Linked DNA regions of Homo sapiens. The protein of the gene in region 1 interacts with the protein of each later gene in a pairwise test. Each region holds a gene or a part of one and is shown in the gene's direction. Other genes may lie near its edges.

Region 1 (7,030 bases):
AGTAAGTGCCCTGACCCTGAACTTACACATGAGCGTCTGACATAATATTTGACAATTTTTTATGCTGTTACTTGTGTAAAGATATTCACAGCAAAAAGTTTGATTTTGTTTAGGTTACCAGAGGTTAGGCTGGAAATAATTAAATATAACTGTACTCATTATAAAAATAGTTAACATCACCAGCAAACATTTGTTAATCTACTAGGTGCAATACCATATGCTCTTGATACTATGCCATCTTACATTTAATTAAGAGTTCTTTACAAATCATACTCTGTGTTTTTCACAGACATTAGAATGGCTTGCATATTTACACATTTAGTTTTTTCAACATCAAAATCAAATGCACAAGTTTCAAACATCACTTTGAGTTCTTGAGAGTATAGTGTGCCAACATTTTAAGTACTTTCTTCTTTTCTTTTCTTTTTGAGACGGGTCCTGTTCTGTCACTCAGGCTGGGGTGCAGTGGCACCATCTCGGCTCAGTAGAACTTCCATCTCCCGGGCTCAAGTGATCCTCTCACTTCAGCCTTCCGAGTAGCTGAGACTATAGGCATATAACACTACGCCTGGCTTTTTTGTTTTTTTCATCCTTTTTTTCATGTGTTAGGTACTTGTCACTATTCTCTTGACTTTTTTTTTTTCTTTTTGAGATGGAGTCTCGCTCTGTTGCCCAGGCTGGAATTCAGTGGTGTGATCTTAGCTCACTGCAACCTCTGTCTCCCGGGTTCAAGCGATTCTCCTGCCTCAGCCTCCCGAGTAGCTGGCACTACAGGCGCACGCCATCATGCCCGGCTAATTTTTGTAATTTTAGTAGAGATGGGGTTTCACCATATTGGCCAGGCTGGTCTTGAACTCCTGACCTCAGGTGATCCACCCGTCTCAGCCTCCCAAAGTGCTGGGGGATTACAGGCGTGAGCCACTGCACCCAGCTCTCTTGACTTATACACATTTAATCTATTCTATTAATTTGTGTTAATTAGATATTGGTCTTCAAATTTTAGTATTCATAAGAGTCACCTGGACAGCTTATTAAAAATACACTTGGGGACCAGGTGTGGTGGCTCACGCCTGTAATCCAAACACTTTGGGAGACTGAGGTGGGTGGATCCCCTGAGGTCAGGAGTTTGAGACCAGCCTGGCCAACGTGGTGAAACCCTGTCTCTACCAACAATACAAAAATTAGTTGGGCGTGGTGGTGCATGCCTGTAATCCCAGCTACTTGGGAGGCTGAGGCAGGAGACTTGCATGAACCCGGGAGGCGGAAGTTGCAATGAGCTGAGACTGTGCCACTGCACTACAGCCTGGGCAACAGAGCCAGACTGCATCTCAAAAAAAAAATGAAATAAAAATAAAAATACAGTTGGGGATAGGCATGGTGGCTCGTGCCTGTAATCCCAGCACTTTGGGAGGCCAAGGTGGGAGGACTGCTTGAGCTCAAGAGTTTTCATCAGCCTGGGCAACATAGGGAGACCCTCTCTCTACTAAAAATAAAAAAATTAGCTGAGTATGGTGGTGCCTGCCCCTAGTCCCAGCTACTCCAGAGGCTGAGATGGGAGGATCGTTTGAGCCCAGGAGGTCAAGGCTGCAGTGAGCTGTGATTGTGCCTCTGCACTCCAGCTTGGGTGACAGGGTGAGACCCTGTCTCAAAAAAACAAAAACCAAACCAAAACAAAACACCAGTTTACAGGGTCCCATCTCCAGTGATTGGGGCACAGACTAGAAATCTGATTATTTATTCATTAGAGTTGAGGTCTTGCTTTGTCGCCAAGGCTGGAGTGTAGTGGCTCAATCACAGCTCACTGCTGCCTCGAATTCCTGAGCTCAAGCAGTCCTCCCAAGTAGCTGTCCCCTAGGCTGGAGTGCACCTGGGGGTACAGTCATGAGATACCATGTCTGGCTGATTTTTAAATGTTTTGCAGAGACAGGGTCTCCCTATGTTGACCAGGCTGTTCTGGAACTCCTGGGCTCAAACAGTTCTTCCCCCTTGGCCTCCCAAAGTGCCGGGATTATAGGTGTGAGCCACTGTGCCCAGCCCTGATTTTTATTTTTTTTTAATTTTAATTTTGTCTTATTATTTATGTTTTTGGAGGCGACATCTCACTCTTGTCACCCAAGCTAGAGTGCAGTGGCGTGATTGTAGCTCATTGCAGCCTCAAACTCCTGGGCTCAAGTGATCTTCCTGCTGCAGCCTCCTGACTGGCTAGGACTACAGGGTCACACCACCACACCTGGCCAGTTTTTCTACTTTTTGTAGAGACTAGATCTTGCTGTGTTGCTCAGGCTGATCTCTAACTCCCGACCTTAAGAGATCCTCCCACCTTGGCCTCCCAAATTGCTGTAATTACACATGTCAGCCGCGGTTCCCAGGCCTATTTCTCCTTTTAATAAGACCTTGGATCTTAGTGTGCCACCCTCCAGCAATAATCTTTGCCAACTGGTTCTAAGAGTCAATCAGGCCAGGCATGGTGGTGCACACCTGTAATCCCAGCACTTTGGGAGGCTGAGGCAGGCAGATCACCTTGAGGTCAGGAGTTCAAGACCAGCCTGGCCAACATGGTAAAACCCTGTCTCTACTGAAAATACAAAAATTAGCTGGGCATGATGGTGCACACCTGTAATCTCAGCTACTCGGGAGGCTGAGGCAAGAGAATGACTTAAACCTGGGAGGCGGAGGTTGCAGTGAGCCAAGATCGAGCCACTGCACTCCAGCCTAGGGGACAAAAGCGAGACTGTCTCAAAAAAAAAAAATGTCAATCAGTCTGACGTTCTACATCTTTATTAGGGAAAATACTCTCTTTGACAAGCAATTTGTTTTATAAAATATCTTCTCTGACACATTTGTTTTACCCTAGTTTATTTTCTGTTGCATCTTATGATGGTTTCATCTTCAAATCTATTAATTTGTATTTTATAAAGAGTCATCTTAATTAGATTTATTTAATCCTTATTAGTGGTCCTTTTATTATTCTTTTTTTCTTATATTTTTATTGTGGCACAAACTTTATACTAAAAGGAAAAGGAGATTCATTGTGAATACATGATAAGTGAAGGAGCCAGTCACAAAAGACCACATACATATGATTCCATTTCTATGACATTTCTAGAATGGGCAGATCTGTAGAGAAAATAAATTAGTGGTTGACTAGAACTATGGAGGAGGAGGGAATGGAGAGGGACTACTAGTGGGAATGGAGTTTCTTTTCAGGGTGTTAAAAATGTTCTAAAATTGTTTGTGATGATGGTTATGATATCAAACTAGGTTCGTCCTGCCCACGTGCAGCAAGCCAATCACTATGATGATGGGTTTTGCAAAAGAGACAAGATTTTATTCATAGGGCTGCTGAATGAGGAGACAGGAGAGCAAATCCCAAATCTGGCACCCTGAAAATAGGGCTTGGCAGTATTTGTGGGGTAGGACGCAGGGTGGTCTAAAGCATGGGGAAAGGTGATTGGCAGGTAGGAAAGGTGAGGTAATCAAGGTTTCTGCACAAGCGTAATTGAGCTACATTGCTCTTCATAGGCCATGTGCAGAAAATGGCAGTGTTAACATGATCTAAGTGTGGAGTTTTTGTCCCTCTGACATGAAAAGGTCACTTTTTGGGCACTCATGCAGGTCCAGTTGAGGGATTGGTGGTCTCAACTGGGTAAGAGCTGTCCCCTAATTCCTGAAAAACAACTTTAAGCATCTGTTAATATAGTGACCCACAGTCAGAGATGTCATCTTTTTTTTCTTTCCTTTTTTTTTCTTTTGAGGCAGGGTCATGCTATGTTGCCCAGGCTGTTCACAGATGTTAACTTTTATTTATTTATTATTTATTATTATTATTATTTTTTGAGATGGAGTTTTCGATCTTGTTGCCCAGGCTGGAGTGCAATGGCATGGTCTCAGCTCACTGCAACTGCCTCCCAGCTTCAAGCGATTCTCCTGCCTCAGCCTCCCAAGTAGCTGGGATTACAGGCACATACCACCACACCCAGCTAATTTTTGTATTTTTAGTAGAGACGGGGTTTCACCATGTTAGCCAGGCTGGTCTCAAACTCCTGACCTCAGGTGATCCACCTGCCTTGGCCTCCCAAAGTGCTGGGATTACAGATGTGAGCCACCATGCCTGGCCAACTTCTTTGTTTGTTTGTTTGAGATGGGGTCTCACTCTGTTGCCCAGGCTGGAGTGCAGTGGCATGTTCATGGCTCACTGCAGCTTCGAACTCCCGGGGATCAAGCAGTCCTGCCTCAGCCTCCTGAGTAGCTGGGACTACAGGCATGTGCCACCATGCCCTACTCAGAGTTTTTCATAAATGCCGTTTTAGTGTTAAATAAGTTTCCTTCTATTCCTAGTTTGCTGAATATGTGTGTATGTGTGTGTTTATTGTGGTAAAATACACATAACATAAAATTCTATCATTTTAACCCTTTAAAAATGTCCAGATCAGTGTAATTAAGTACATTTACGTTGTTGTACAACTGTCACCATGATCTGTCTTCAGAACTTTTTCATCCCAAAGTGAAATGCTGTACCTATTAAACACTAACTTCCCATCTCCCCCCACTCCAGCCTCTGGCAACCACCATTCTACTTTCTGTGTCTATGAATTTGACTACTCTAAAAACCTCATATACGTGGGATCATATATTTGTCCTTTTGTGACTGACTTATTCACTTAGCATAATGTCTTTGAACTTTTGCTGAGTGTTTTTTTTTTTAATCTTAAAAGGGTATTGAATTTTTTCAAATATCTTTTCTGTGTCTGTTGAGATGATAATGTGGTGTATCACATTGATTGATTTCCTTATGTTGAACCACTCTTGCATTCCTGGGATAAATGTTGGTCATGGTATATAATCTTTTTAATGTACTGTTGGATCCAGTTTGCAGTTTGCTGTTATTTTCTTGAGGATTTTTATTTCTATATTCATATGGGATATTGGTTTATAGTTTTCTTATCATGTCTTTTTTTTAAGAGACCAAGTCTCCCTATGTTGCCCAGGCTGGTCTTGAACTCCTGGACTCAAGGGATCTTCCTGCCTCAGCCTCCCAAAGTGCTAGGATTACAGGTGTGAGCCACCATGCCCAGCCTGAATTTTATCGTATCTTTTTCTGGCTTTGGTGTCAGGGTGATGTTGGCCTCATAGAACGTTAGGAAGTGTTCCATTCTTTTCTGTTTTTTGAAGGAGTTCGAGTAGGATTGGTGTTAATTCTTTGAATATTTGGTAGAATTTGCCAATGCAGCCATGTGATACTGGACTTTTCTTTGTTGGGAGGTTTTTGTTTATCAATTCAATCTCTTATTATAGGTTTGTTGAGACTTTTAATTTTTTCTGAGTCAGTTTTGGTACTTTAATGTTTCTAAAAATTTGTCTCTTTTATCTAAATTATCTAATATGCTGGTTTAGTCATTCACAGTATTCTCTTATAATCCTTTCATTTATATAAAATTAGTAGTAATATCCCCAGCTTCATTTCTGATTTTATTTATTTTCATTTCATCTTCTTTCTTTTTCTCCCAGTCAGTCTGACAAGAGTTTGTTAATTACTTTTTTTTTTTTTTTTTCGAGATGGAGTCTTGCTGTGTCACCCAGGCTGGAGTGCAGTGGCATGATCTCAGCTCACTGCAACCTCCACCTCCCAGGTTCAAGCAATTCTCCTGCCTCAGCCTCTCCAGTAGCTGGGATTACAGGTGCCTGCCACCGTGCCCAGCTAATTTTTGTATTTTTAGTAGAGACAGGGTTTTACCATGTTGACCAGGCTGGTCTTGAACTCCTGACCTTGTGATCTGCCCGCCTCGGCCTCCCAAAGTGCTGGGATTACAGGCGTGAGCCACCATACCCGGCCAAGAGTTTGTAAATTCTGTTGATCTTTTTAAATAACAAATTTTTGGTTTCGTTGATTCTACTATTTTTATTCTTCTTGGTTTTTGTGGTTGTTGTTGTTTGTTTGTTTTTGAGAAATGGGGCCGTGCTCTGTTACCCAGGCTGGAATGATGCAGTGGTGTGATCATATGCACTGCAACCTCAAACTGCTGGGCTCAAGTGATCCTCCTACCTCAGCCTCCTGAGTAACTGAGACTACAGGCATGCATCACCAAACCCAGCTAATTTTTTTTTTAATTTCATAGAGATGGGGTCTCACTGTCTTGCCCAGGCCTTGAACTCCTGGCCTCAAGCGATCCTCCTGCCTCAGCCTCCCAAAGCGCTGGGATTACAGGTGTGAGGTACTGCACCTGCCTTATTTTTATTCTTTATTTCACTTATCTCTGCTCTAAACATTGTTATTCCCTCCCTTTGGTTGGGTCCAGTTTGTGCTTCTTTTTCTAGTTCCTTAAGGTCTGAAGTTAGAGTATTGACTTAAGGTCTTTCTTTTTTTTATCTCTGTTTTTATTTTTATTTTTTGTAGAGATGGGGGTTTCACTATGGTGCCCAGGCTTGTCTTGAGCTCATGGGCTCAAGCGATTCTCCCACCTCAGCTTCCCAAAGTGTTGGGATTAAAGGCATGAGCCACCATACCCTGCCTTCTTTCTAATATTTTATTATTGTTATTATTATTTATTTATTTATTTTTTGAGACAGAGTCTCGCTCTGTTGCCTGGGCTGGAGTACAGTGGCGTGATCTTGGCTCACTGCAACCTCTGCCTCCCAAGTTCAAGCGATTCTCCTGCCTCAGCCTCCCAAGTAGCTGGGATTACAGACATACACCACCACACCCAGCTAATTTTTGTATTTTTAGTAGAGACAGGGTTTTGCCACATTGGTCAGGCTGGTCTTGAACTCCCAACTTCAGGTGATCTGTCCGCCTTGGCCTCCCAAAGTGCTGGGATTATAGGCGTGAGCCACCGCGCCCGGCCTTATTACTATTATTTTTTAAGACAGGGTCTTGCTCTGTTGCCCAGGCTGGGGTGCAGTGGCACCATCACAGCTTTCACTTTCCAGATTCAGGCAATCCTCCCACCTCAGTCTCCCAAGTAGCTGGGACCATAGGCTCGTGCCACCATGCCTAGCTAATTTTTGTATTTTTTGAAGAGACAGGGTTTCA
Region 2 (5,587 bases), on another chromosome or scaffold:
AAAAAAAAAAGAATGTGAAATTAGGGCCAGGCACAGTGGCTCATGCTTGTAATTCCAGCACTTTGGAAGGCCAAGGTGAGAGGATCGCCTCAGTAACATAATGAGATCCAATGTCTAAACAACGATAACAGGCCGGGCGTGGTGGCTCACACCTGTAATCCCAGCACTTTGGGAGGCAGGAGGGGGATCACTTGAGGTCAGGAGTTCGAGACCAGCCTGGCCAACATGGCAAAACCCTGTCTCTATTAAAAATACAAAAAAAATTAGCCAGGCGTGGTGGCATGTGCCTGTAGTCCCAGCTATTTGGGAGGCTGAGGCAGGAGAATTGTTTGAACCCGGGAGGCAGAGGTTGCAGTGAGCTGAGATCATACCACTGCACTCCAGCCTGGGTGACAGAGTGAGACTCCGTCTCAAAAATAAAATAAAAACTAAACAACAGGCCGGGCGTGGTGGCTCCTGCCTGTAATCCCAACACTTTGGGAGGCAGAGGCAGGTGGATCACGAGGTTAACAGATAGAGACCATCCTGGCTAACACGGTGATACCCCGTCTCTACCAAAAATACAAAATATTAGCCGGGCGTGGTGGTGGGCGCCTGTTGTCCCAGCTACTTGGGAGGCTGAGGCAGGAAAATGGTGTGAACCCAGAAGGCGGAGCTTGCAGTGAGCTGAGATTGCGCCACTGCACTCCAGCCTGGGAGACAGAGTGAGACTCCATCCCCCGCCAAAAAAAAAAAAAAAAAAAACAACTAAACAACAACAACAACAAAAAAGAATGTGCAATTAGATAGAACTTCCTTAGAACCTAAAACAGGGAAACAGGGAAGGGCATTCTAGAATCAATGGCACGAATTAGGAAGCCTAGAGCACATACTTGGAACACACACATCTTAGAAGTTAGATTGCTCCTGGGAAGAGAATGGAATCTAGAACAACGTGGCTGAAACCTGGAACACACTTGAAATGAACATTTAGCAAAGAAGGAAGGACTTGTTGTTAGAACTTTGGAACATGTCTGAGGATATGGTGGGATCAGAATCTGGCTCAGGGGTCTTATCTAAATATATGAAAAAAACAAAGGCTGTGCACAGTGGCTCACGCCTATAATCCCAGCACTTTGGGAGGCCGAGGCAGGTGATCACCTGAGGTCGGGAACTCGAGACTAGTCTGACCAACATGGAGAAACCCCCATCTCTACTAAAAATACAAAAAATTAGCCGGGCATGGTGGTAGGCGCCTGTAATCCCAGCTACTCAGGAGGCTGAGGCAGGAGAATCGCTTGAACGCGGGAGGCAGAGGTTGTGGTGAGCCAAGATCGCAGCATTGCACTCCAGCCTGAGCAACAAGAGTGAAACTCCGTCTCAAAAAAAAAAAAAAAAAAATTGGCATCTGGCCTAGAACTCAGACCATGCCTGGAATGAAAATGGAACACAGAACAGACATCAGCTGGGAGTGTTCTGGTGTTTAGAAGGAATCTAGAACATGGAGCAATGCAAGAGCACATGTGCGACAAGAAATGTGGCCCGGCCAGGCGCGATGGCCATGCCTGTAATCCCAGCACTTTTGGGAGCCAACAGAGAAGGATCCCTTGAGCCTAGGAGTTTCAGACCAGTCTGGGCAACATGGCGAAACCCCCATCTCTACAAAAAATAAATAAATAAATAAATAAATAAAATTTTTTTTTGAGACAGAGTTTCGCTCTTGTCGTTCAGGCTGGAGTGCAGTGGCACGATCTCAGCTCAATGCAACCTCCGCCTCCGGGGTTCAAACGACTCTCCTGCCTCAGCCTCCTGAGTAGCTGGGATTACAGGCATGTGCCACCACGCCTGGCTAATTTTGTATTTTTAGTAGAGACAGGGTTTCTCCATGTTGGCCAGGCTGGTCTCAAAATCCTGACCTCAGGTGATCCGCCCGCTTCAGCCTCCCAAAGTGCTGGGATTACCGGCATGAGCCACCGCGCCTGGCCAAAAAAATTTTTTTTTAATTAGCCAGGCCTGGTGGTGAGTGCTTGTGGTCCCAGCTACTCAGGCGGCTAAGGTGGGAAGATGACCTGAGCCTAGGAGGTGGAGGCTGCAGTGAGCTGTGATTGTGCCAGTGCACTCCAGCCTGGGCAACAGAGACCTTGTCTCAAAATAAATAAATAAATAAATAGAAAGAAAGAAATTTGTATGGCAGCAGGTAGCTTCTAGATCTCCTTATGAGCCCAGGCCACAGAATACATCTGGAGGAGGTGATGTGTGTTCGGCTCATTGGCCTGGGAGAGTGTACTTGGAGAAGGGGAACTCATCTGAGCCTCAGGGGGCAATGGAGTGCTAGAAACATCTCAACAAGCTGCATCTTAGGGGAAAGAGTAGAGAGTCCTGAAGCCCGCCACCTGGGGTGACATGAGGATGAGACAGGGGTTTGGTAGGGCCACAGGAGATGTGAAGTTGATGGGGCAGAGTGATGAGGCTGTGAAGACCTGGTTCCTAAAAGTGAGACCTGAGAAACTAGATACCTGCTGGGGAGGGCAGTGGACAGAGCTGGGAGCCTGGACTCCTGAATCCTTGTGGAGGTAAATGATGGGGGATTGGAAGGTGAGAGCCTGAGGTCTTGTTTGGAGAGAGGGTTGAGGCAGACAGCCTCAGTAAAAGCTGGTGGGCAGTACGGAAGCTGGGGTCTGAACTCCTGGGTCCCTGAGGGGATAGGAGACTGGGACCAAGACATTTAGGTCCCCAAGTGGGAGTGTGAACAGAAGTCAGAGAACTGCATTGAGAATCACATTCCGGGTCCCCCAAAGGAAAGGAGTCATGGCGCCTGAGTCCCTCGGGGAGCAGATGCTGGGTGCCAGGAGGCTAAGTCTGTGTGTCTGCAGGGCACAGCGGGGTTCTAAGCAGAGCAAACGCTGGGGAACAGGATTCCTAGGTGCTGACGGGGTGAGGGCTACCACCTGGGGCCAGCAGAGGTGTAGACACGGACAGGCTTCCCGAACGGGGTGGGAGCTGCATCCCCGGGTGCCATGGTCCCCACGGCGACCAGAATAGGAAAATTCAGAAGCCCTGGATCCTCAGGGAGCAGCTGGAGTCCCAGGAACCTGGGGTGCCGAGGACGGGGCCACGAGCCTGGCCGGCAGAACCCAGAGGCTGGGGCGCCCTGGTCGGGGAGGGCCCGGGTATTCCCGGGTCAAAGGCGCGGCGGGGGGATCCCCGCGCCGCCTGCGCCCCCTCCCTGGTGGCGGCGGCAGGAGGTGGGGGGAGGCGAGGCTGCCGAGCGCGCTGACCATGGACAGCTCCAGAGCGGGCCTGTGTCCAGGGCGGCCGCCGAGCCTGCCTGGACCGTGGGACGCAGCCGGCTGTGCAAGCCCGAGGCTGGCGACGGGAGACGGAGTGCGCGAAGCGGGGACGATGCGGACGCGTCTGGGGAGTCTGGCACCGCCGCGGCGGGTGTCTGGAGCTCCCAGGACAGGGTCAGGAAGGGGGATCTAGGCTCTAGGAGGGGTCCCGGGGCCGGACCGGGAAATCCAAGCTCCTGGGCCCTGGAGGAGGCGCGAGGCGGCGGTGCGCCCGGGATTCTAGGGTTCGGTCGGGGACTCTGGGCGCCGGGAGGGGCACGCCTGAGTCCCCGGGGTTGGGGTGTGAAATCTGGGCTCGGGGGTCCCCTGGGATGAGGAAGGGAATCCGGGATCTCGGGGAGGCGGGGGAGGCTCGCCAAGGGGTCCCCAGGGTGGGCGCTGCCAGGAGGGCCGGGCCGGGCTCTTACCTGCCTGGTCCGCGGCGGCTGCGGGCGGAGCTGGGCTGCAGGAGGGACGTGGGGTGGAGTGGGGGGGCCGGGCGGGGCCCCTGGCAGCGGCCGGGGCCCGGCTCTGTCGCTTCGGAGCCCTGGAGCCCTGTCTCCGACGCTCGCGCGGGCTCCGCGTCTCTGGCTCCGGCTTGGGCGCTGGGGACCCCCCTCCCCCTCACGCTCTCACTGCCTTCTACCCCCAAAATAGCCCCCTGCCCCTGTCACCGATCAGCCTCCCCCCGCGAGGCCGCAGCCGCCAGATCCAGGGGTGCCCACCAGCGCCCCCCAAATCCCACCTTCCCCCCAAAAAAATTCCTCCTCCCTCCCCCTCCCCCCCCACGGCTCCCGGGCGGTCGTGGCCCCTTTAACAGGAGACTGACAGACGGCGAAGAGCGGCCAATGGGAGAGAGCGTCGGCGCCGGCCGGCGACTAGACCCCGCCTCCACACCGGCCGGGAGGGGTCGCGCGGGCGGAGAGCGAGAGGCGGGGCATAAGGCGCGTCGACCAATAGGCACGCGGCGTGAGGCGGCTGGGGCGGGAGGCGGAGCCCGGCAGGGGGATGATGTCACCTGGAGCGAGTAGCGCGCGGCGTGGAACGCGAGTCGCGACCCCGGCTCCCGGCAGTGGCGCGCACTAGCCCTCGCGCCGCACGGGACACGAGGGCTGGGCGGGCAGCGGGATGAGGCTAAAGGTTGGATTTCAAGGCGGGGGCTGCTTCCGGAAAGACGCGCTGTGTTTGGAAGGTGGAGTGAGCGCCCGGTGGGCGAGGGCACCTCATTCTGCACCCCTGCGCCCGCCTCGGGAACTGCACGCGGCACCCCCACCCGCGACTCCCACGCAGACAGTAGTGCGGCCTGCAGGGTTCCCCCGGCGGACGAGGCTAATGGTTCGCTCCGCCCCGCCCACACAGAGGCCGCCCACTGGCTCCGGCTGCGTTTCAGGACTCTGGAGGAAGGGACTTGGCCTTCGCCCTCAGACGCTCTTAAGGGTAGGCAGCGTTGTCCTCAGTTCTGCCCCAGCACTCAGACCCAGACTGGGTCCCTGCCTCCGCCCTCCGCCCTCGGACTAGTCTCTTGGAAGCCGGCCTGTCTCCGCCTTCAGACCTAGGGAGAGGTCTTAACCTCTGTTCTCAGACTCTGGAAAAGGCTTCTCAACGGCTTGGCCTGACCTCAGCTCCTCGCATTCCCTCCACATCTCAAGACACCAACCCAGGGATGCAGGACAGACACACAGACACTCAGTGAGGGTCAAATATCTTTAAATAAAGTGCCAGGAACAATAAATACTGTACAGGAAGAGAGTGCACGTGAACGTCCAGATCTGTGGTTTCAACCTCGAGACTCCAAGGACCTGCAAGGGGGGTGGACAAGGGACCCGGGATCAGGGAGGCTCCGGGTAGACAAGAGGGGCAGGACTGGGGTTGCAGAGGCAAGGGCCCAGGTAAGTGGGCTGAGGGATCCCAGCCACAGTAGGTTCCGTATCTTGGGATGGAAGGAAGCTAAGGGCTCCCCAGGGGATTTGGCCAAACTAGCCTGGGGTGAGAGCCTGGGCCAAGGGTCAAGGGTCAGGATCCCAGAGGAGGGGCCAGGGCTGGAAGATCCAGGAAGCACTGGCCTGGTTTGGGAGCCTGGGGTTAAAGGGAGCCCGTGGAGGCCCCAGGGGTGTGGTGACCCAGGGGCTCACGAGTAGCTCTGATGCTGTTGGCGCCGGCGGGCAGAGCGCATCTTCTCGAACCGGGCCTCCATCTCCTCCAGCACTCGCGGTGTGTAACGGACAACCAGCTTCACCGAGCCCTGGGCCGCCTTCAGCAGCTCCACCGCCTTCTCATGC
Region 3 (6,906 bases), on another chromosome or scaffold:
GGGTGGGCCTGGTGGCTGTTCAGAAAGTCCCAGGCCCCTGAGAGAGGAGGGCTCTATTGTGAAGCCATTTAGCTCTTCCCAACACTCATCACTGCTGCATTTATCTAGGCCATATCTAACACATACCACTGGGGATCCTAGGGCTAGGCACTGCGTGGAGCCAAAGGGAACGTGGCCTCACACCCAAGGAGATCCAAGTCTGATGCAGAAGGCCCCGCCTCATTCTTAGGTCTGACTAGAAGACCCTCCCCCCGCACAAAGAAGATGACCCCCACCTTTAAGGATCCCTTCTCTTGGAGAACAAGAATTTATTGTTTTCTTTTCTTCTCTATCCCAAGCCCATCTCTGATGATGAAGCCAGTGATGGGGAAGAAACCCAGGTTAGTGCAGCTGATCTGGAAGCCCTCATCAGTGGCCACTACCCCACCTCCCTTGAGGGAGATTGTGAGCCTAGCCCAGCCCCTGCTGTCCTGGATAAGTGGGTCTGTGCACAGCCCTCAAGCCAGAAGGCGACCAATCACAACCTCCATATCACAGAGAAGCTGGAAGTTCTGGCCAAAGCCTACAGTGTTCAGGGAGACAAGTGGAGGGCCCTGGGCTATGCCAAGGCCATCAATGCCCTCAAGAGCTTCCATAAGCCTGTCACCTCGTACCAGGTACCCAGGGGCTAGAGTGGGAGGAGGGGTCTTTACTGGCCAGTGGTTAGTAACCCCAGTGGGGTTCAGGTACAGTGGTGAAGATTTTATGGGGTCTAGGACTTGCACAAAAGAAAAAAAAGGAAAATTGATGAAAGCAGATTGGCAAAATCTTGATAGTTGTTGAAGCTGGGAGATGTACGATACTTGGGGGTTATATGGATCTCTCTACTTTTGAATTTTTTAACATAATTAAAAGTTTTTTATTTTTAATTTTGTTTATTTATTTATTTATTCATTTATTTAGCAGAGATGGTGTTTTGCCGTGTTACCCAGGCTGGTCTTGAACTCCTGGGCTCAAGCAATCTACCCTCGGCTCAGCCCTGCAAAGTGCTGGGATTACAGCCATGAGCCCTTGTGTCCCGCCTAAAAAGTTGTTTAAAAGAAGTTTGGACTCTGAAGCCTAACAGACCAGGGTTTGAACTCTGGTTCCTGTCATTCACTAACTGTGTGACTCCAGACAAGTTACTTAAACTCTCAAAGCATCAGTTTTCTCATTAGTAAAAAGGGGCTACTATTAAATGAAATGGTCCCTGTAGCACAGGACCTGACATAGAGTAAGCCCTCAGTAAATGTTAGCTCTTGCTGTTGGAATGATGATGATGGTGGTGGTGGTGGTGGTGACTAATATCATCATTATTTTCTACTTCTTACTGCTGGTCTCCATCCTTCTGGGAACCAAAAGACAAATTACCCAGCCCTCATTCTATCCAAAATTCTCATCTTCAACTACACCCAAGCTTTACACAGCCACACAGTTGCCAAGCAGCCAGGCTGGCTTTTATGTCAGCATCTGCTAGAGGAGTCAGCTTCCTTTCCACTGGCTCTACCTCTTCCATCTCCTCACTCTTCTTTCTTGCCTCTGCCTCCTCCTCCTCTAGGAGGCCTGCAGTATCCCTGGGATTGGGAAGCGGATGGCTGAGAAAATCATAGAGATCCTGGAGAGCGGGCATTTGCGGAAGCTGGACCATATCAGTGAGAGCGTGCCTGTCTTGGAGCTCTTCTCCAACATCTGGGGAGCTGGGACCAAGACTGCCCAGATGTGGTACCAACAGGTCACACCCTGGCTCAGCCCCTACTTCAGTTTTGCTGTGTCTCAGAGTTCCTGCCCCAGATGTGTGCTGTGCTCTGCCCCAGATCCCTATGCTGTGCTCTGATGGGAATGCACCCACAGTATAGGGAGACCATTTTTCAAGCGGACCAGGACTCATATAGACCCCTCAGCTCCCAGAACAGCCTTGTTGCTTGGTATCCTTAAGAAGGAGTAGACAGGGACAAGAAGTATGTTTCTCAGTCTCCCCAGACCAGCAAGGGCCTTCCTGAGGAGGCCAGGCCTTGACACTGCGTGTCTAGAGCAGTGGTTCCCAATCCTGGCTCTGCCCACAATCACCAGGGCAGCTTGGTAAGGATGAAGATGACAAGGTCCATCCTCAGACTGATGGAATCATGAACGAGCATCTTAGGATAGTGGCAGGGCTGGATGATGGCATGTTTCCCATGCTCCCTGCCTTTCCCAAGTCCTGCTGAGTACAGACCCAACTGCCCCTAGGTTGGTCCTGCCTCTAGCCTTCCCTAGAGTCTGGGGCGATGGAAGCCTTGTGTGTGTGCTCACTCATGCCTCTTCATTGGTCCTGGATCCTTACAGCTTCCCATCTGGCTGCTTTTTTCCAGGGCTTCCGAAGTCTGGAAGACATCCGCAGCCAGGCCTCCCTGACAACCCAGCAGGCCATCGGCCTGAAGCATTACAGTGACTTCCTGGAACGTATGCCCAGGGAGGAGGCTACAGAGATTGAGCAGACAGTAAGCAGGTGTCCCAGAGCAGTGAGGACAGCCAGGTCCTGCTGTAAGGTCTTGGGTCAAAGCCAAGAACCCCCAACTCCTCAGCTGGGGAGGACAGCAGGCAGAGGAAACTGTGGATCACCAGAGGTTGAGCACAGAGCAAGTTAAGACTGAAGCTCCAGGCCCAGAGGTGGGGGTGGGGAGCTTTGGGAGGAAAGAGCTGTAACACCAGCCCTCTAGATTCTGGTTCTCAGTAGTCAGGCCTATTAGGATTGGATTCAATTCTAGACTGATTGGTGTTAGGATTGGGTTAATGTTAGGGTTAGATTACAGGTGAATTATATCTGTACTGAGGTTAGGGTGGGTCAGGGCAGAGGGTTTTAATATTTTATTTTATCTTTTTTTTTTATTTCACCAACTTCTTTGAGAACCTGATGAAAACTGTGGACTGTTTTCTCCCCAAAATGCACAAATGTGCAAAGGTTTATGTCTTTTTCCAGATGTATGGACCTTCTAAAGCCCACGCAAGGCTGGCTCAGGATTTGGGGTAGAGTTGGTGTAAAAGCACAGTGTCAGTAGGATTTGGTTTGGGGCTGGAAGAAAGCTCCATCAAGATGGAGTTAAGACCAGGCACAGTGGCTTATGCCTTTAATCCCAGCACATTGGGAGAACAGGGTGGACAGATCATCTGAGCTCAGGAGCTCGAGACCAGCCTGGCCAACGTGGTGAAACCCTGTCTCTATAAAACATACAAAAATTTCCAGCCTGGCAAACATGGCGAAACCCCGTCTCTACTAAAAATACAAAAAAGTTAGGCGGGTGCCGTGGCTCATGCCTATAATCCCAGTTTCTTGGGAGGCTGAGGTGGGAGATTTGCTTGAACCTGGGAGGCGGAGGTTGCAGCGAGCCAAGATTGTGCCACTGCACTCTAGCCTGGGCAACAGAGCAAGACTCTGTCTGAAAAAAAAAAAAAGATTGAGTTAAAGTTAGGCTTTAATTAGGCGTAGGATTTTCTTAATGTTGGTTGCTTTTAAGTTAAGATTTGTAGTTGTCCAAGAAATAAGATTTGGGTTTGGTTTAGAGTTGGGTTAGCGATTAGGTTCATGTAAAAGCTAGATTAGAGAGACACTGGACTGCATTTAGGGCTAGATGTATCATTTGTTCAATGGGCATTAGGATTAGGAGCTGCTTGTAATAGGCAAGTTTTGCTCACTTTGGTCAGGGATTCTGATAGAGTGGGATCCCATGGAGACTGGCCTAGTTTGATTGAAATCAGCCCCCAGCTCCATTCCAGGCCACAAGGCTATGAGGCCGGTATGAGATGGATGGACAGGCCTCTTTGTCTGCCCATCACCAGGCCTTGGTGCTAGTGATGACACCGTCACTCAGCCATGGTGTCCGGGCATGGAGAATGCCTCAGTCAGTACCCAGCCCATTGGAACAAAAGAGGCTTCCCACCTGGCCTCCTGTGCCCCCATTTAAGGGCTCCAGCCATAGGAGTTTTGATGGGATTACTCACGTGGACCTCCTCCTTCCATTCTCTTGGGAGGCTCAAGAAGGGAGTAAGGGGATTAGCGGAGCCCTCCTGTCAGGATACTTGAGGTGTCCGGGGCCCCAGAATTTTCAGTGTCCTGGGGTGGAGGCAGGAGGCCATCTGCATATGAAAGAACCTCAGTGTCTCAGGGGTGGAGGCTAATGGGTTTATTTTTCCTCAGAGGGACAATCCTTCAGCTGGCAGTTGCTGTCTCAGCTCCCTCCCCACCAAGAAAGGATGTGGGTGTTGGCTCAGAACTGCCCCCTCTTTGCTTTCTTTCCTCTCCTTTCCCACAGGTGCAGCTGTATTTCTGTGCTCCACTTTCTCCTGGGCCTGGGCCTGGCGCATGCTGCCAGCCACCTGCTCAGTCCTCAAACCCCAGCTCACATATTCCAAACCTTTAGCTCCAAATCAGTAGATATCTGGGGCTGCCTAGACCTGGCTGAGGGCTTTCAGCACCTGGCCCCTTGTCCTAAGTGGAGTTTCACAGACCTGGGCACGTGGGCTGGGGCAGGGGCAGAGAGAGTCTGTGTCTCCCTACTCTTAAAGAGCTCCACAGGGCAAGCTCAGTGCCCACTCTCAGAAGCAGAGCCGGCACCTTCTCCCGTCTCTCCTCAGGCTTGCCTCCTGCACAGTGAGCTTTTTCTTCTCTCCTGTCCTAGCGAAGGGAAAGAACAGCAGCTCCTCAGGGTGGATTCCCCTGGGCTTGCAGCAGGCATCTGGAATGGGCATAAGCTGAGGGTGTGGGCCCGAGTCTGGGAAGGCCCTTGTACTGCTGTGGGAGAGGAGCTCCCCACGCACAGCCCCTCACCTGTCACCGCTCTCTTTCCCAGGTCCAGAAAGCAGCCCAGGCCTTTAACTCTGGGCTGCTGTGTGTGGCATGTGGTTCATACCGACGGGGAAAGGCGACCTGTGGTGATGTCGACGTGCTCATCACTCACCCAGATGGCCGGTCCCACCGGGGTATCTTCAGCCGCCTCCTTGACAGTCTTCGGCAGGAAGGTATAAGCTCCATCTCTGGGTGAGCAGGTTGACAGAGGGCAGCACAGGTCTGGGGGCCCCCTCAGAGGGAGAACCTCAGAAGTTCCAGTCCTGAGGCAGGAAGCAGGGGAACAGTGCTTTGCCAGCATCCCATCTCTCTATCGGGGCCGGAATCCTCTCCAGGGAGAGATGGAACAGCCCCGCCACACCTATGTGGAGGTGCTCAGTGAACCCTGCAGGCCAAGTATCTCATCTGATCTTTCTGTGACACTATGGGGGAGATGGGAATTACTATCCATGTTTTACAGAAAAGGAGAAGGGCCCAGAGAGGGTAGTGTCACCCAGCTAATACCTGGGCAAGCCCCAGCTTAGACATCAGGAGAGACCTGGGAGGATGGGACAGCCCAGGCCTGGTTCCCTGCCCTCCCAGCAGTCCCCTCTGTTGGGCCAGGGTTCCTCACAGATGACTTGGTGAGCCAAGAGGAGAATGGTCAGCAACAGAAGTACTTGGGGGTGTGCCGGCTCCCAGGGCCAGGGCGGCGGCACCGGCGCCTGGACATCATCGTGGTGCCCTATAGCGAGTTTGCCTGTGCCCTGCTCTACTTCACCGGCTCTGCACACTTCAACCGCTCCATGCGAGCCCTGGCCAAAACCAAGGGCATGAGTCTGTCAGAACATGCCCTCAGCACTGCTGTGGTCCGGAACACCCATGGCTGCAAGGTGGGGCCTGGCCGAGTGCTGCCCACTCCCACTGAGAAGGATGTCTTCAGGCTCTTAGGCCTCCCCTACCGAGAACCTGCTGAGCGGGACTGGTGACCCATGGCTGGGGGTGCTGAGGAGAGCCGAGTTGGACTGGCTACCCCTCCTGGCCACCCAGTACTCCCTCCAGCCTCAGCTGGCTGAACCTCGCCGCTCCAACCACCAGCTTCCTCAGCGAGCAGGGCCCAGGGCTCTGGGCCTGAAGCAAGAGCCAGCCCGGCTCCCAGTGTCTGCCCGGCTCCCAGTGTCTGCCCAGCCCTCTCCCAGACAGGAGCAGGCTGCCACCCCTTCTACCTCACCACTGCCCCTCGAAGAATTTTGCAAATGGCCCCTTGCCCCATTTTAAGCAGGAGCAGGTGGCTGGTTTGAAGCCCCAGGTATCCCCCTTCCCTGCTATGGGAAAGGCCAAGCTGCTGGGTGGGGACAGAAGCTGCAGGGGAGAGGGAAGCAGCCGTGCTGTCAACATCATCCGGCACCCTCTGGGGTAGGAGAACAGCCATTCCACATGTGTTCCCTCTATCCGTCCTGCTTCCTGGGCAGCTGGTGGTGCTGGGAATGGGGTGCCCCAGCCTTGGTGAGGACAGTGTTGGGAGGCCCAGGGGCCCAGTAAAGTGCATTTGACATTGAACCTGCCTGGTGTCTGAGCTGCTGCAGCCTCTGGCTACCTTGTTCCACCCAGGCAGGGACGACAGAGATGGGAACTGAAAAGAGGAGCCCAGAAAGGCTGTGTTAACTGCCCTCCAGACAGGACTGGCCTGAGTCAGCTCCTAAACTCACAGCAAGGACAGCAGTGGCTGTGACCAGGGAGAATGTTGGAGCCAGGCACCCAGAGCTCCTATCTAGTCATCAGCATCTTCTGCAGGCCCTACCTTAGACCAGGCTATCAGGGGACATGAGCAAAAGTGACAAGACTCAGGAAACCATTAGGAACAACTAAATGGTGACCGTGTACACAGGGATGGGCGGCCAGGGAAGGCTTCCCGGAGGAGGAGAGAGGCAGACTGGCAGGGAAATTGCCTCTGAGAGGAGTCAGCAGGCTCTGTTTGGGGACAATTAAGGAACAGCTTTAGAGAGGACACTGTGTGCTGGGAGTCAGGAGCAGGCTGGGCTGGCAGAGGACTGGAAGCAGAGCTTGGTTTGATAGAGCAGACAGGAGCA

The links.
Region 2: the proteins of TFCP2 (region 1) and C19orf73 interact in binary tests that used the Homo sapiens proteins (3 or more experiments, as listed by UniProt).
Region 3: the proteins of TFCP2 (region 1) and POLL interact in binary tests that used the Homo sapiens proteins (3 or more experiments, as listed by UniProt).

The regions. Positions count from the first base shown.
Region 1 is NC_000012.12:51,163,120-51,170,149, reverse strand, and holds part of TFCP2 (alpha-globin transcription factor CP2), read left to right. Parts: intron 1-7,030.
Region 2 is NC_000019.10:49,117,872-49,123,458, reverse strand, and holds C19orf73 (putative uncharacterized protein C19orf73), read left to right. Parts: upstream 1-4,315; 5' UTR 4,316-4,436; coding exon 4,437-4,826; 3' UTR 4,827-5,057; downstream 5,058-5,587. Other genes in the region: LIN7B (protein lin-7 homolog B), read right to left, coding at 5,086-5,107, 5,441-5,587.
Region 3 is NC_000010.11:101,578,352-101,585,257, reverse strand, and holds the end of POLL (DNA polymerase lambda), read left to right. Parts: intron 1-338; coding exon 339-656; coding exon of another isoform or gene 657-822; exon of another isoform or gene 823-908; intron 909-1,576; coding exon 1,577-1,750; intron 1,751-2,366; coding exon 2,367-2,495; intron 2,496-4,841; coding exon 4,842-5,010; intron 5,011-5,419; coding exon of another isoform or gene 5,420-5,440; coding exon 5,441-5,805; 3' UTR 5,806-6,376; downstream 6,377-6,906.